Regions from separate parts of the Homo sapiens genome. Here regions 1, 2, 3 and 4 are each reported to be linked to region 5. Evidence: microRNA targets listed by miRTarBase, many of them from high-throughput screens and not tested one by one. Region 5 holds a microRNA gene; each other region holds the end of a gene's coding sequence.
Evidence for each region. Region 5 holds the annotated microRNA hsa-miR-513c-3p (UAAAUUUCACCUUUCUGAGAAGA, at 1,771-1,793, opposite strand). A microRNA usually pairs through its seed, bases 2 to 8, with sites in the 3' UTR of a target mRNA and lowers its output. Matches are read on the target gene's strand: a 7mer-m8 pairs with bases 2 to 8, a 7mer-A1 pairs with bases 2 to 7 and ends in A, and an 8mer does both.

Region 1 (3,000 bases), not on the chromosome of region 5:
GCACACAGATACAAATAGAATTTGAACACTACTCTTAAGGAATCTCTGCTTCTTTCAATGCTTAAAGGAGAATAGAGGGCAGACAGTTTCGGTGACACTGTCACAACAAGGGGCTAGGCTAGATGACCTTCAAGTATTTTGCTCAAGTATTTAGGATTTGTGCTCTAAGAGGTACCTTCTCCATTTCCTGGAAACCCTCTTAGCCCAGACCACAAACCCCAACATGATCGCACCTGAACATGAGTCATCCAAGTTTTGTTATCTAGTAGCTACATTAGGCACAAAGCTTGCAAGCTTGCATTCCAAAGAAAGAGCTTTGATATATTTTTCTTTCCCTCCTAACAAACAAACAGCGAAGAAAGCTACCGTGAATTTACTGGGTGAAGAAAAGAAGAGCACCTAAACCAGACTGGATGGAAACTTCCTGCCCTCTCTGTACCTTCCTACTGGAGCTTGATGTTATATTAGGGACTGTGGTATAATTATTTTAATAATGTTGCCTTGGAAACATTTTTGAGATATTAAAGATTGGAATGTGTTGTAAGTTTCTTTGCTTACTTTTACTGTCTATATATATAGGGAGCACTTTAAACTTAATGCAGTGGGCAGTGTCCACGTTTTTGGAAAATGTATTTTGCCTCTGGGTAGGAAAAGATGTATGTTGCTATCCTGCAGGAAATATAAACTTAAAATAAAATTATATACCCCACAGGCTGTGTACTTTACTGGGCTCTCCCTGCACGCATTTTCTCTGTAGTTACATTTAGGATAATCTTTATGGTTCTACTTCCTGTAATGTACAATTTTATATAATTCTGAAATGTTTTTAATGTATTTGTGCACATGTACATATGGAAATGTTACTGTCTGACTACAACATGCATCATGCTCATGGGGAGGGAGCAGGGGAAGGTTGTATGTGTCATTTATAACTTCTGTACAGTAAGACCACCTGCCAAAAGCTGGAGGAACCATTGTGCTGGTGTGGTCTACTAAATAATACTTTAGGAAATACGTGATTAATATGCAAGTGAACAAAGTGAGAAATGAAATCGAATGGAGATTGGCCTGGTTGTTTCCGTAGTATATGGCATATGAATACCAGGATAGCTTTATAAAGCAGTTAGTTAGTTAGTTACTCACTCTAGTGATAAATCGGGAAATTTACACACACACACACACACACACACACACACACACACACACAGAGTAACCTGTAACTCTCAATTCCCTGAAAAACTAGTAATACTGTCTTATCTGCTATAAACTTTACATATTTGTCTATTGTCAAGATGCTACAATGGAAACCATTTCTGGTTTTATCTTCAAAGCGGAGAAACATGTTGATTTAGTCTTCTTTCCCAATCTTCTTTTTTAAACCAGTTTAAGGAACTTCTGAAGATTTGTCCACCTCTGATTACATGTATGTTCTTGTTTGTATCATTAGCAACAACATGCTAATGACGACACCTAGCTCTAAGAGCAATTCTGGGAGAATGAAAGGAAGTATAAAGTAACCCATAATCTGCTTGGCAATAGTTAAGTCAATCTATCTTCAGTTTTTCTCTGGCCTTTAAGGTCAAACACAAGAGGCTTCCCTAGTTTACAAGTCAGAGTCACTTGTAGTCCATTTAAATGCCCTCATCCGTATTCTTTGTGTTGATAAGCTGCACATGACTACATAGTAAGTACAGAACAGTAAAGTTAAAACGGATGTCTCCATTGATCTGCCAAATCGTTATAGAGAGCAATTTGTCTGGACTAGAAAATCTGAGTTTTACACCATACTGTTAAGAGTCCTTTTGAATTAAACTCGACTAAAACAAGTGTATAACTAAACTAACAAGATTAAATATCCAGCCAGTACAGTATTTTTTAAGGCAAATAAAGATGATTAGCTCACCTTGAGATAACAATCAGGTAAGATCATAACAATGTCTCATGATGTAAAAAATATTAAAGATATCAATACTAAGTGACAGTATCACTCTAATATAATATGGATCAGAGCATTTATTTTGGGGAGGAAAACAGTGGTGATTACCGGCATTTTATTAAACTTAAAACTTTGTAGAAAGCAAACAAAATTGTTCTTGGGAGAAAATCAACTTTTAGATTAAAAAAATTTTAAGTATCTAGGAGTATTTAAATCCTTTTCCCATAAATAAAAGTACAGTTTTCTTGGTGGCAGAATGAAAATCAGCAACTTCTAGCATATAGACTATATAATCAGATTGACAGCATATAGAATATATTATCAGACAAGATGAGGAGGTACAAAAGTTACTATTGCTCATAATGACTTACAGGCTAAAATTAGTTTTAAAATACTATATTAAATTCTGAATGCAATTTTTTTTTGTTCCCTTGAGACCAAAATTTAAGTTAACTGTTGCTGGCAGTCTAAGTGTAAATGTTAACAGCAGGAGAAGTTAAGAATTGAGCAGTTCTGTTGCATGATTTCCCAAATGAAATACTGCCTTGGCTAGAGTTTGAAAAACTAATTGAGCCTGTGCCTGGCTAGAAAACAAGCGTTTATTTGAATGTGAATAGTGTTTCAAAGGTATGTAGTTACAGAATTCCTACCAAACAGCTTAAATTCTTCAAGAAAGAATTCCTGCAGCAGTTATTCCCTTACCTGAAGGCTTCAATCATTTGGATCAACAACTGCTACTCTCGGGAAGACTCCTCTACTCACAGCTGAAGAAAATGAGCACACCCTTCACACTGTTATCACCTATCCTGAAGATGTGATACACTGAATGGAAATAAATAGATGTAAATAAAATTGAGTTCTCATTTAACTGTTATATTTCATTTTATTTTGTGGGGCTTTTTTCCTAACCCAGAATTATTTAAGGAAAGTTTTAAGTAAATACAGATAAATGAGCCATGAACACTGCTCTTTATTAACTCTATTCCTCACATGGCTTGTAGTTTTCTCCTGGTGGTTCTTGCCTACCAGAGGAAAAGACTTGTCCTAAAGAAAACATACCAACT
Region 2 (3,000 bases), not on the chromosome of region 5:
TGAGAAGCTAAGTTGAATGTTGCACGGGGTAAAGTTTGCAGTGCTAATTGTGTCCTTTTCTCCTGCAGCGCCTACATAAACCTCACCATATTTGGAAGATTCCTACTCCATTTGCAAGTCATGCTTTTCACCCTATTGATGGCTTTCTTCAGAGTCTACCTTACCATATATACCCTTTTATCTTTCCATTACACAAGGTGGTTTATTTAAGTCTGTACATCTTGGTTAATATCTGGACAATTTCCATTCATGACGGTGATTTTCGTGTCCCCCAAATCTTACAGCCATTTATTAATGGCTCAGCTCATCATACAGACCACCATATGTTCTTTGACTATAATTATGGACAATATTTCACTTTGTGGGATAGGATTGGCGGCTCATTCAAAAATCCTTCATCCTTTGAGGGGAAGGGACCGCTCAGTTATGTGAAGGAGATGACAGAGGGAAAGCGCAGCAGCCATTCAGGAAATGGCTGTAAGAATGAAAAATTATTCAATGGAGAGTTTACAAAGACTGAATAGATTATTGCCCAGTTATTCTTAAGTAAGGACAAAGAAGGAAATATCATCGTATTTCTTTTTTTTAATAAGGAAAAAATAATATCCATACAGTCAAGATACATAGTAAATGGTATCATTTGGAAATCAGCATCGTGGGCACTGCTGAGGAATGATCCTAGTGGTAGGTCAGAAGAAGATGCTGTGAACACCAGGACTTTAATCTTATGCTTAAAATGCCAGATGTTGTTCGGGGGACAACTTGTATCTTTCTAGCAGCAGATCTGTAGTTTGTATAGCCTCAACAACAATTTTAAATAAGATGGAGAATAAATTATTGAGGGGACTAGGCTATATGCATTTGCCTTCATCCACCCATGTTTATTAAGAATCATTGTGCTTAATAATACCAAGACTAAGCACCATAACCAAGAAATACTAATGTAAAGATTGTTTCTTGTTTCAGGAATGGTTAATTCTTCAACGTTGGTATGATAATGATAACTTGTTTTGACTTGAATAAAGTACTACATCAGTGTGGAAAAAAATTCTGATACATTAGCAGCTATGTAAATGACCTAATTGATAGCAGGTGTAATAAGACTATCGTCTTCCTACACATAGGAGGCTCATTCTCTGGACACACTATCACCTATTACATTTTACTGATTAACAAATAAATTGGAATTTAAAAATATCGATATCACCATGATTTAATCCAGATCTGGGATTATGTAGCTAAACATTGTGATGATTATTATTTAAAACCATTATTTAATAAGAGTAAAAATATGTGAATCTGGATATATTTAAAAAAAGAAATTTGATGCCCAGATAATATATTAGGCACTACTGATTTTTTAGTTAAATTGATGCACTACACTTTTGATGTTTGAAGTTACAAACCTGTAATTTTTTTGTAAAGGAAATAATTGCCAAATACCTAGGCCCATTGCTGACGATTAGTTCTAAAATCTTATTCCTCCTCTTCTCCCCTCACTTTTCCCTACTTCCTCTGCAAAAAGATTTAACAAATACATTCATAAGGAAATGTGTGTTGTAACAAATATATTGCAAAAACATAGTTTGTAAAGGCATTCTATAAGCTATTTATGTAAAATCAATAAAAGTTGATCATAATTAAACTGTATCAGTTGAGTATTATAGCAGCACAAAGTATTCTTTGTACAGATTTTGTGCCAATTTGAAGCCACAGAAATGATGTGGATTGTTAATTGTGTTTTAGAACATCCCCGGACACTCAGTGTCACAGGGGGAAAGAAGTGGGTACCACATTCTGTTTATATTTCACATTTTAACTAGATTTGAGTGTTTTTAGCAAGAAATCAGTCTTAAAATCTAATGTCTGGGATCCAGAAGAAAATGTCTTTAATCTGTGAGTTATTGTCACAATGTCATCTTATTTAAATGTACCAATTAGCATTTTGTAATAGGCAAATGTCATTTAGTGCTTTTCACCAATCCCACTCACCCCCGGTGCTCCGCCTTGCCTAAGAAAAAGAAATTAAGGAGAAGTAAACTTTATTTCCTAATATAATGTCAGCTGATATTTATTGAGCTTTTCCTCTTTGCCCAGAGACTAGGACCCAAAGAAGTTAAGTAACTATTCCCAGGTTTATTTCTCTCTCATATGATGTCCCATGTGGATGTTTGTGGTCAGTGGACAGCTTTCCACCTAGTCTTTCTGCGACCCAGGCTCCTTCCTCTTGGGGCTCTGCCTTTCTCTCAGTCCATAGAGCCCTCTTTGTTGAAAGAGCACATAGGAAAAGAAGGAAAAGTCTGTGTGGAAAATGTTTCTGGGTCAGGCCTGGAAGTGGTGCATATCTCTTCCGCCCATGTTCCTTTGGACAGAACTCCGTCACATGGCCCACCTAGAGAGATTTTGGGAAATGTGTCCAGCTGTGTGCCTGGGAGGAAGGGGGCACCATTTTCTTGAGCAGCTAGACAGTTTGCCGTATTTGTGGTGTTCTCCTCTTGTTGATGTTGAAATGGTGAATGAGCCATAAAGTATTTCAGGTTATCCACACACTAATCATCTCAGTGTCTTTAATTCTTAACTCCAATATGAATGTTTAAAGCTTCCTCTAGATTCTTATTCCTATATAACTAATAGAGAAGAAAGGACAGCTTCCTATGGGGAAGACAGAGGCTTCCTCATAGATGTTAGGAATAATCAAACTTGCCCCTGCCCTTTCACCCGTCTCAAATTCTGGTCTTTTAAAGCAGCGTTATGTTAAGTAGTCCTAACATTGTAATATACAGTACTGCCACATTCTCCTACTTTCTATTAGAGGAAGTCAGAGAATATTTATGGAAGTGAGGACCCAAATTACCTTCTACAGATGACTTTTATAGTTACAGGACAGAAAGTGAAAATCAAGGTTACGTTTTCTACTTTTGTGGTAGAAATTGAGAAGTGGGTGGATATGGTTCGAGAAGACCTTTCAGAAACACAGAGACTGAGTCTTTGTCTTCCATG
Region 3 (3,000 bases), not on the chromosome of region 5:
CCCCCACCGGACCTACAACCCGCAGTCCCACATCATCTCAGGCGGGCTGGCCGGGGCCCTCGCCGCGGCCGCCACGACCCCCCTGGACGTCTGTAAGACCCTTCTGAACACTCAGGAGAACGTGGCCCTCTCGCTGGCCAACATCAGCGGCCGGCTGTCGGGTATGGCCAATGCCTTCCGGACGGTGTACCAGCTCAACGGCCTGGCCGGCTACTTCAAAGGCATCCAGGCGCGTGTCATCTACCAGATGCCCTCCACCGCCATTTCTTGGTCTGTCTATGAGTTCTTCAAGTACTTTCTCACCAAGCGCCAGCTGGAAAATCGAGCTCCATACTAAAGGAAGGGATCATAGAATCTTTTCTTAAAGTCATTCTCTGCCTGCATCCAGCCCCTTGCCCTCTCCTCACACGTAGATCATTTTTTTTTTGCAGGGTGCTGCCTATGGGCCCTCTGCTCCCCAATGCCTTAGAGAGAGGAGGGGACGGCACGGCCGCTCACCGGAAGGCTGTGTGCGGGGACATCCGAGGTGGTGGTGGACAGGAAGGACTTGGGAAGGGGAGCGAGAAATTGCTTTTTCTCTTCCTCCCTGGGCAGAATGTAGCTTTTCTGCTTCACTGTGGCAGCCTCCTCCCTGGATCCTTAGATCCCAGAGGAGGGAAGAAAATTTGCAGTGACTGAAAACAGTAAAAAAAAAAAAAAAAAAAAAAAAAAAAAAAAAAAAAAAAAAAAATTTATGTATATAAAAGTTGCATTACACAGTACAAAATAGATGGATAATGTTTATCCTTTATTTTTCTATGTAGAAGTTTTTGAATTTGTGTGTGTGCTTGTGCGTGTCTACACCTAGTATTACGGCTGGGACTCTCCAGCTGTTTTTGTTGTTGTTATGTTTTTAAGAGGGTTGAATTCTTCCATCAGGTGAACGAAAAAGGCAACAAAGTAATAAATCAGTGAATGTGGCCGGCAGCTGTGTTTAGCCCCTCCAGATGGAAGTTTCACTTGAATGTAAAATAATAAAGTTTATATTTTGAATTTCTCTTTTCATGGGGGAAAAAAGGTACGTTAAAAAAATCAAAATAATGATATGTCACTTGCAGCTACCTTTTTTTTTCTTTTAAATTCAATCAGCCACCTTCATGTGCCTTTTTCCTTTGTCTTTCCCCAAAATTCCAGGACCAGAGATCTGGCCCTGGCCTATTTTCTCTTGCTGTGTACACACACGCACACATGCTGGGTGGCAGGATCTCGCCCGCTGGAGGGTGGTGGAGCCCAGTAGAATTGGGGTGACTGGGCATAAACCTGCTGAGACTGCTTCCTTCCCTGGTTGTGAGTGATGTGAATGCCTGCCTTCCCCGGTCAGCACTTAGAAGCCCTTGATAGGCAGCATTTGGCGACTTGTGGGGCAGGTGTTTGGGATAAATCCTACCTTCATCCTAGGACTTATTTCTGCATCAGCCTTTTAACTCAGGCACTTCAGGTAACGTGATCTATGTGTGTTTTGACTGAATCTCATCTCCTGTGTTTCCCTGTGCAGTCTAGGGAAGCATGTCTCCAGTCTTTGTCCCTGTCTTGTCCCAACCATTAATTCTCATGTCACAGCTTCTCACTGCATGTGACAAGAGCCAGGCCTATCTGCTAGGGCCCTGCGGCTGAGGTCTGACCTGGACCCTCATGCCCGAGTCGGAAGACCCCTCTCCAGAAGCCATTCTGCATCCTTGTCTGCTCTGCGTCACCCGAGAACACAGGCTTCGCAGCCTCGCTTTCTGAAATGGTGTGTGCCGAGTCAGATTGCCGCTCAGAGAAAATACAAGCCCGTTTTCCCTAGCTGTGCCATTTGGTGCTCTGCCAGGCTGCCGTGCAAGGGAATACCGACGAGACGAGCTGCACTGTCTCTGATTTGGAGCCCTCACCGGAGCTTGTCTTTAAAAATGAGCAGGAAGCTCATGTATGTTTGCATTTCAGTGAGCCGGGTCCTGACCTGCCGCCACCCATCACGGTCAGCGTGGTGCATCTTACCGAGGAGGCGCAGGCCTGGATTCTTTTGAGTGGTGCTACTGCCTAGGAAGTAACACGTGGAGAATTTCCATCTTGGGACCATGCACACAGTGCCTTGGGGAGTAGATTTTGCCCTAATAGCGATGAAGAATTTTATCAGTCAGTGGAGTTCCTTTTTCAGATCAGGGATGGGAAAGAGCCAAACTGGGTACCTCCCACGTGTGCCCCGTGAACAGCCCTTTGCAGCTGGGCTGTGGGGCTTGGCTGCTGCCCTGTCCCATCTGGCAGTTAACGCCTTCTCCCTGCTCTGCCCCCCACTCCCCAAAACCAGTTGCAGCCTCAACCCACATGGGGATGTAGAAAGCCGTAAAGTCCACGCTACTGTTGAAAATGTTTACATCTCCGCTCTCAACCTGCCTTGGGTTCGTGTTAAATGGTGTTAAATTCTGCAAATGGAGGGGAAAAAAATCAAATTCTAAATTTCAAAGTAGAATTTAAAGCAAATTTGTAAAAAAATTATCCTACCACCCCTTTTGGTCCACTTAAGATATGCCACGCTGAAGCAAGGTATTTCCTACTGGATTTTGCTTTCACTGGTGTTTAGAAAATAAACTTGATTTCTCTAGGAGCACTCCTTTGGTTAGAGGGATGCAAGAAGGAGAGGTGAAGGTGGCGTGTGGTGGCTCATGCCTGTAATCCCAGCACTTTGGGGAGGCCGAGGCAGGCGGATCACTTGAGGCCAGCAGTTTGAGACCAGCCTGGCCAACATGATGAAACCCCATCTCTACTAAAAATACAAAAAATTAGCTGGGCATGGTGGCAGGCACCTGTAATCCCAGTTACTTGGGAGGCTGAGGCAGGAGAATTGCTTGAACCCAGGAGGTGGAGGTTGCAGTGAGCTGAGATTGTGCCACTGCACTTCAGCCTGGGCGACAGAGTGACTCTGTCAAAAAGGAAAGGCAAAAACCGGACCCTGGAGCTCTGTGGGCCCTGATTGCAGGCCCC
Region 4 (3,000 bases), not on the chromosome of region 5:
GCCTGGGCAACACAGTTAAACCCCATCGCCACAGAAAATCTTCAAAAAATTTGCCAGATATGGTGGCACACAACTGTGATCCCAGCTACTTGGGGTGGGGCTGAGGTGGGAAGATCACTTGAGCCCAGGAGGTTGAGGCTGCAGTGAACTGTGATCACACCACTGCACCACAGCCTAGGCAACAGCGAGACCTTGTCTCAAAAATTTTTTCTCAAATCAAACATCATTGAAAATCTACTTTTTATAAGCTTCAAATCACAACATCTAGTATGTATGCTGACAGTGATGTTTTTAAATGCCATATATATTTAATAAGTATAATGTAGAGGTTTATTGTTTAAATGAATTCACTCTCAAAATGTGATCTGTCAAGTCCAGTAGAGCTTCAAGGTAAAATGAAAATTTTTAAATGTGATCTGGTTATCTGCTTACTGAGATACTATGTTTCTAAAGTTAAAGCCCAAAATAATGAAAATTTTTCCACTAGAATCTCAGGGAAAAAAAGTCTAATCTTGATATGGGTTTGGTCTCTGGATCCGGTTTTAGCTTCATGAAATTTGATTACAGTTTCTCTCTCTTTAAGCTATACCAGTTGGGGGTGAGTGAAGAAATACCCATAACCTAAAGCAATCTTGAGCCTCCTAATAGCATGTTTATGGTGGAGCGCTGATTAAATAAGCTGTAATTTCAAAGTTAAAAAAAAAATAGTCTCTAGATTCTAACACTGAAAAGCAGTGTATATGGCTGACATTTTCTCACTCCACAGAAATCAATTAGCTTTTGCTGTTTTTTACATTCATAGAGAACCAGTTAAATTTTCATATCCTGTTAAACTATATCAGTATGCCTTTTCTAAGCAACCATTGAAACTTCCAGCACCAGCGGCCAGGTACTGTGGCTCAGATCTGCAATCCCAGCACTTTGGGAGGCCACAGCAGGTGGACCGCTTGAGCCCAGGAGTTTGAAACCAGCATAGACAAAGTGGTGAAACTCCATCTCTACAAAAAACACACACACAAAAAATTAGCTGGGCATGGTGGCATATGCCTGTAGTCCTAGCTACTAGGGAGGCTGAGGCAGGGTCAAAGCTGAAGTGAGCCGTGATTGCACCACTGCACTCCTGGCTGGGTGACAGAGCAAGACTCTGTCAAAAAAGGAAAAGAAAAAAAGAAACTTCCAGCACCACTAAATTTGCCAAATAAATTTGACTGATGCCAAAACTGAAGCTGCCAATGTAATGAAATGTTAAGGTGGCCATAGGACAGTCCTTTTAATAAAAGCTTCCATGTAAAACCAAAATAAAGGTCAGTATAGAAAGTATCATGGGGTATATAACAAACTGAATTTTTGGCTTCCAATCCAAACTGGGCTAAATGGTATGTTTATTTTAAACAAGGAATTTGCCATGGACAAGATCTATCTGGCTTACTGTGAGTTAGAAGTACGCCCTGCCGTAACACTGGTATTTCCACATAGTATGGAAGAGGAAGAGAGGAAAACTTAATTAAGTGTTGCAAAATTGTTTGAGGACCTATTTTGGTCCATTCCTTATCAACTCCATGTGTGATTTCAAGTTATCTAAAGGGCATGTGACTTTATTTCTGACTAACATCAAGTTCCTCTCCTCATCATAACAAGGCGATTCAAACCTAAACTGTGATTCTTAGGAGATGCTTCCAAGGGGAAGCTCCCTCGTTGGACATCCAGAAGATTGCATTTTCTCTTCAGAGTACAATTTTCCATCTGTCAGAGCATGTCTGAATAAAAATTTGAACCTACTACAAACTACATTAGAATAATTTTCAAGTATTTTTCTGTCACAAAAATGGTGTGACAGAATGTGTTGAAAAACACAAAGTTCACAGCTGAGATTAATTTAGATAACCTAGTGGTTAATATGCTCATGAACATCAGCAACAACCGTGCATTCCTTGGCAGATGGGATGCGATGGAAACCAAAGGTTTCCTTAAGGCAAGCACTTCACAACTAGTTTTCTGTCAATTCTTGCGTAAATCACATTCTGTATTCATACAAAAACTTTGTTTTTCTCTGACAAACTGTACACATAGAAACAAATTTCCAAATGGACAGGAACTTAAATTTGTGGAGATGCCCCATGTCTTGTGAGACTTAAAAAAAAGAAAAAGATCCCAGCTTTTATCTTCACAAAACAACATGGGAGTTGGGGCAATGAGGGTGGACAGGACAGGGCCAGCCAGGCTGGTAGCTGGCAGCAGTCTCTTCATCTTGAAGACCTCATTGAGGGTTCCTGGGATTCAGGTGCCCAGAAAAGAGTTCAGGGCTACAATGGTGCAGGCTTCCTTTTGTTTCTCTTGGTGAGTCCACAAGAAGTTCTTACATACTGTCCAGAGAGGCCTCAGGGTACTCAGTTCCAGCTTCTACCGACCCCTTCCACCACCCCGTGAAGCTCCTCGCCTCGGCGGGCCAGAGTTCATGTTACTCCCTCTACCCCAGTTACTGCCACTCCGGCCCCCTCGAGAAGGGGTGCCACTGCCTGGAGGGCCCCCAAAAGGTTCATCTCTGTGGTATCCATCGTGGTGCTCTCCGTCTAAGGAGCTGGAACGCCCAGATTTGGGCACTCTCTGAGCAGGTCCTGGGCCCCCTCGGCCTGAAACAAAGAAAATTTCACATGGGACTTTTTGTATTAGCAACTGTTTGTCAGTAACTCCCAGTACAAACTTTACTCTCTGATGACAATGGACCAGTTCTGGTGGGTGCCAGGGAGACTGGCAGTGGTATTCAGCGTACTGAGAGGTGTGCCTCTACCCTTTCCTGACCCTGCCTCCCCCTTCCTGGCTCATGGCCATGGGCCTCAGCATCAGCCAGATCCATGCCCCCAGGGCTGTGTGACAGACGACAGGAAGCCAAGAGATGAGCAAGGAGCACCTTCAGGGAGACCCGGGCCACACTGGGCCATGTCCCAGGCCATGGGAAGTGTATCTGCCTGCTCCCAGCCACCAGGGTATATTGAGGGAAGG
Region 5 (4,732 bases):
AAGGGCCCTTGTGATAATGTTGGGCTCACCTAGATAATCTAGGATAATCCCAATCTCAAAATATTTAATAACATCTACAAATTTTCTTCTACAATAAAATATGATGCTTACGAGTTCAGGGGTTACATTGTGAACATTGTTTGGGCGGGGGCTGTTACTCTGCCTACCACAGAGATCTTGTAATTTTTTCTTAGAGTTTCAAATAAATATTTTATGTTCATATTTTATTTTTCAATTAGCTTGATTTAATCATTGCATAATGTACACATATATCAAAACGTCATGTTGTACACCTTAAATATGATTTTTATGTCAGTTAAACCTTAATAAATTGGAAGAAAAAAGGCTGAGTAATACAAAACAGTATTTCACTGAAAAAAAACACAAATACCAGTAAATATACTATTCTTTTGAGAAATCATAACAGAGGTATGATAACAACTAAATTCTCTTTTATTTCATTTTAAGATATCACTTAAAGTTATATAAGTAAACATGCATCACTATAATACAGTTTTAGAAATTATATACTAAAAACAGTTATCACTTTGGAAAATTCTATGTACATACAGTATTGCAAAGTGACAAAATTTTTTTACTGTTCAGAATGTTGCCCCCACCCCAAAAAGATTGTATGTATTCTATTATTACAATGTTTTTCATTATGGAAAAGATACTTCAACTGTTTTTTTTACTTTCAGACATTAATGGTCTTATACATATTCATACATTCTGAATCTAAAAAAACATAAACCAAAATCCTGCCTGTAACCATATAGTAATTGTTTTTTATAGTTTTTCCCTTTCGGTGTTTATGCTGTAGCCTCTGTTTCAGTTGGAATCAAAATTGTATTAATCACTTACTATTTATAACATTTTTTACACATTTCCACAATATAAATAGCTTATTTATAACCTACTTCCCAAACATGTATACTAGATTAATGCTGCAGATGGCCTTACATAGTCTGGTGCTTGTCTTTCTCTTGCATGTTCTCTCTCTCTCTCTCTCCTCTCTCTCTCTCTCTCTCTCTCTCTGTGTGTGTGTGTGTGTGTGTGTGTGTGTGTGTGTGTGTGTGTTTATTTCCCTCTATTTCTCTCCATTAGGTTAAGAGTTAAGCGTCACCAAAAGAAAATGGGGAGAGAAGCCTAGGAGATATCTCTTGAGTATCAATTCTGTCATACCCTTCCATTCTTCAAATATACTCTTAAAAAATGGGGAAAAAAGATAATTAAAAAGGGTGAAATATTCTTGGGTGGACTATGCTTAACCCTTCATAAATTGGTGACTGAAGGCTTTGAAAGGTATTTTAACAGTCAATGAGAAAATGTTTTAGTCTTTGACAGAAAATGGACACTGTGGATCAGCAATGAAGGGACCTGAGAGGCAGGAGAGCCTTTTGGGAGCACTAAAGGACAATCCTTGCAAATGATGACTAGTTGATCAGTGAAAAGAGTTTAGAGAATTGAGGAATCTGGAGTAAAATGTCTCAGCTGACGAAGAATGGCTGTGGCCTCTATACAACGTATTTCTTATTTGAGCCAAGCCTCATTTGGCAAAAGTAGATAAATTCTTAAGGAACCAAAGTGCATGCGTTTTCTCAGGAGTCCACAGTTCTTATGTGTAGTCGTCTAGAAGGCACAAAAAGTTCCTTGAAGTAGCCCAGCACTGAGGAGTGGGTGCACAGGATGCAAAACAGGCATCACCATGCTCGCAGCTACAGCCCCATCCCTAGGGACACCACATATGCAGTGCATGCTGTACATTACTCTTCTCAGAAAGGTGAAATTTATATTTTAGTTCACATAAACGACACCTCCTTGAGAAAGGCACTGTACGCTGAATGGCTGAATGTGGCATCCCAGACCAAATGTTCCCTATTCATGCCGTTTTTATTCAAGTCCCTATAGGTGTATGCCTTCGCATGGCCACCAAGATTTATGCCAAGTAACAATGCAACTTCTAGCCCCTAGCACTCCCCTTTTCACCCTGCCCTGAGTGAGATATTAACATGCAGATTTTTGTTTTGTTTTGAGACGGAATCTGGCCCAGACTGGCATGCATTGGCGTGATCTTGGCTCACTGCAACCTCCGCCTCCCGGGTTCAGGTGATTCTGCCTCAGCCTCCTGAGTAGCTGGGATTAAAGCTGTGCACCACCATGAACAGCTAATTAACACGCCGATTTTTAGGCTGAGCAATGATAGAGCTTTTCACTTCTCCTCTTTTTCAGAGGTGAGTTATCCTTGTCTGAATTATCCCATTGGTTTTCCTGTAATTTTGCTTGTCTCATTAAAAATCCTCAAAGTCTTTGCTATTGTGAATAATGCCGCAATAAACATACGTGTGCATGTGTCTTTATAGCAGCATGATTTATAGTCATTTGGGTTATATACCCAGTAATGGGATGGCTGGGTCAAATGGTATTTCTAGTTCTAGATCCCTGAGGAATCGCCACACTGACTTCCACAATGGTTGAAACCAACCCAAATGTCCAACAATGATAGACTGGATTAAGAAAATGTGGCACATATACACCATGGAATACTATGCAGCCATAAAAAATGATGAGTTCATGTCCTTTGTAGGGACATGGATGAAATTGGAAATCATTCTCAGTAAACTATCGCAAGAACAAAAAACCAAACACTGCATATTCTCACTCATAGGTGGGAATTGAACAATGAGATCACATGGACACAGGAAGGGGAATATCACACTCTGGGGACCGTGGTGGGGTGGGGGGAGGGGGGAGGGATAGCATTGGGAGATATACCTAATGCTAGATGACGAGTTAGTGGGTGCAGCGCACCAGCATGGCACATGTATACATATGTAACTAACCTGCACAATGTGCACATGTACCCTAAAACTTAAAGTGTAATAAAAAAAAAAAAATCCTCAAAGTCAGGCTAGGCTCGGTGGCTCACTCCTGTAATCCCAGCAATTTGGGAGGCCAAGGTGGGCAGATCATCTGAGGTTAGGAGTTCGAGACCATCCTGGACAACGTGGGAAAACTCCCATCTCTACTACAAATACAAAAGATTAGCCCGGCGTAGTGGTGGGCGCCGGTAATCCCAGCTACTCTGGAGGCTGAGGCAGAAGAATCACTTGAACCCAAGAGGCAAAGGTTGTAGTGAGCCAAGGTTGCACCTTTGCACTCCAGCCTGGGCAACAAGAGTGAAAATCTGTCTCAAAAAAATCTTCAGACTCAGCCGGGCATGGTGGCTCATGCCTGAATTCCCAGCTCTTAGGGTGGCCCAGGTGGGGAGATCACTTGAAGCCAGAAGTTTGAGACAATCCTGACCAACATGGTCAAACAAACATGGTAAAACACCATCTCTACTAGAAATACAAAAGTAGCCAGGTGTAGTGGCTTGCACCTGTAATCACAGCTACTCTAAGCTGAGGCAGGAGAATCACTTGAACCAGGAAGGCAGAGGTTGCAGTGAGCAGAGATGGTGCCAATGTACTCTAGCCTGGGTTACAGAGCGAGACCCTGTCTCAAAAAAACAAAAACAAAAAACCCTTAAAATTACAGTTAAGTACAAAGGACCAACCACTCACTAAAGCTTTCTGTTGTCCTAAAACTCCAGCTGTGCTGCACAGACCTAAATTCCAACAGAAAAACCACAGAATACAACCACCTGGATGCAGAGAAGTGCAGAAGAGTCAGAGAAAACTAGGTTAGAGAGAGCAGAAATTTAATTTCTTCTTCAGGCTATGCAGGGGGAAGAATCCATAGAAATTAATACGAGAGAGAGACGAGACAGATAATGGGCTGGAAGACAGGAAATGCTATTCTATTTCTCTTAGCTCCATGGTTCTTTATCGTTCATTTATTGGGGTGCTCTCTCTGTGTGTGTGTGTGTGTGGGCGGGGTGGTGTTATTAATAATTAATAAGATTTTTTAGCTTTAATATTTAGTGTTTGCATTAATATATTTTCCATCTTTTTACTTTTACCCAACTTTCACATAGGTCTTCATATTTAAAATGGGTTTGTTTGACATAGTATATTAGTGGTTTCTTATTTTTATGTAATTTGACAATCTCTGTCTTAATAGAAGCATTTATATCATTTATATTAATACAATTATTTATATATGTGCATTTAAATCTACCGGTTTTCTAGTTGTTTTCTATGTTTCATCCTTTTCTAATTCCTATTTTCCTGTTTTTCTGCCTGATGGCAGACTCAGTATTTTTATCATTCAGTTATATTTTCTGCACTCTTATTAGTTGGTCACTTAAAAAAAGATAGTGGTTGCTCTGGAGTTTCCAGTGTCCATATTTAATTCATCACAGTCTATCTTCAAAGAATATGATCCTACTTTTTGTATAGTTTAAAAATCTTATGATGGTATACTTACAATTCACCCCATCCTTTGTAATATATATGTTAATTACTTTCATTAATGTTCTAATTCCCACATACATATTTATTCACACTGTTATCTGTTACTGACTGATTGAAAATAATAAAATAACCCCTGTATGAACCCCAAAAATTTGAGGACAGGTCTCAGTTAATTTAGAAAGTTAATTTTTCCAAGGTTGAAGATGCACACCTGTGATCCAGCCTCAGGAGGTCCTGATGGCATGTGCCCGAGGTGATCAGAGCGCAGTTTGGTTTTATATATTTTAGGGAGTAATGAGACAGCGATAAAAATATGTAAAATGAACGTTGGTTTGGTCTGGTCCAAAAAGGTGGGAAAACTCGAAGTAAAAGTG

Region 1: miRTarBase lists REEP5 as a target of hsa-miR-513c-3p. Seed matches in the 3' UTR shown: 8mer at 1,160-1,167 and 7mer-A1 at 2,377-2,383.
Region 2: miRTarBase lists SC5D as a target of hsa-miR-513c-3p. Seed matches in the 3' UTR shown: 7mer-m8 at 1,319-1,325.
Region 3: the mRNA of SLC25A37 is a reported target of hsa-miR-513c-3p. Seed matches in the 3' UTR shown: 7mer-A1 at 728-734.
Region 4: the mRNA of WDR33 is a reported target of hsa-miR-513c-3p. Seed matches in the 3' UTR shown: 7mer-A1 at 2,098-2,104, 7mer-m8 at 2,075-2,081, 7mer-A1 at 1,200-1,206, 7mer-A1 at 1,187-1,193 and 7mer-A1 at 812-818.

What each region holds. Positions count from the first base shown.
Region 1 is chr5:112,876,189-112,879,188 of GRCh38, reverse strand. REEP5 (receptor accessory protein 5) reads left to right here. Exons shown (of 5, transcript NM_005669.5): 5 at 354-2,804. The coding sequence ends at 403. It also overlaps a transcript of SRP19 not described here. Among named protein-coding and RNA genes, the nearest start is that of SRP19, 16 kb to the right of the region's middle.
Region 2 is chr11:121,306,989-121,309,988 of GRCh38, forward strand. SC5D (sterol-C5-desaturase) reads left to right here. Exons shown (of 5, transcript NM_006918.5): 5 at 69-3,000. The coding sequence ends at 524. Among named protein-coding and RNA genes, the nearest start is that of SC5D, 16 kb to the left of the region's middle.
Region 3 is chr8:23,571,519-23,574,518 of GRCh38, forward strand. SLC25A37 (solute carrier family 25 member 37) reads left to right here. Exons shown (of 4, transcript NM_016612.4): 4 at 1-3,000. The coding sequence ends at 337. Among named protein-coding and RNA genes, the nearest start is that of SLC25A37, 44 kb to the left of the region's middle.
Region 4 is chr2:127,703,923-127,706,922 of GRCh38, forward strand. It overlaps WDR33 (WD repeat domain 33), which reads right to left. Exons shown (of 22, transcript NM_018383.5): 22 at 1-2,630. The coding sequence ends at 2,401. SFT2D3 (SFT2 domain containing 3) reads left to right here. Exons shown (of 1, transcript NM_032740.4): 1 at 1-1,320. Among named protein-coding and RNA genes, the nearest start is that of SFT2D3, 3.9 kb to the left of the region's middle.
Region 5 is chrX:147,187,947-147,192,678 of GRCh38, forward strand. It overlaps MIR513C (microRNA 513c), which reads right to left and starts at 1,841; the gene lies at 1,758-1,841. The region is part of intron 1 of LOC105373347 (periphilin-1); the gene reads left to right.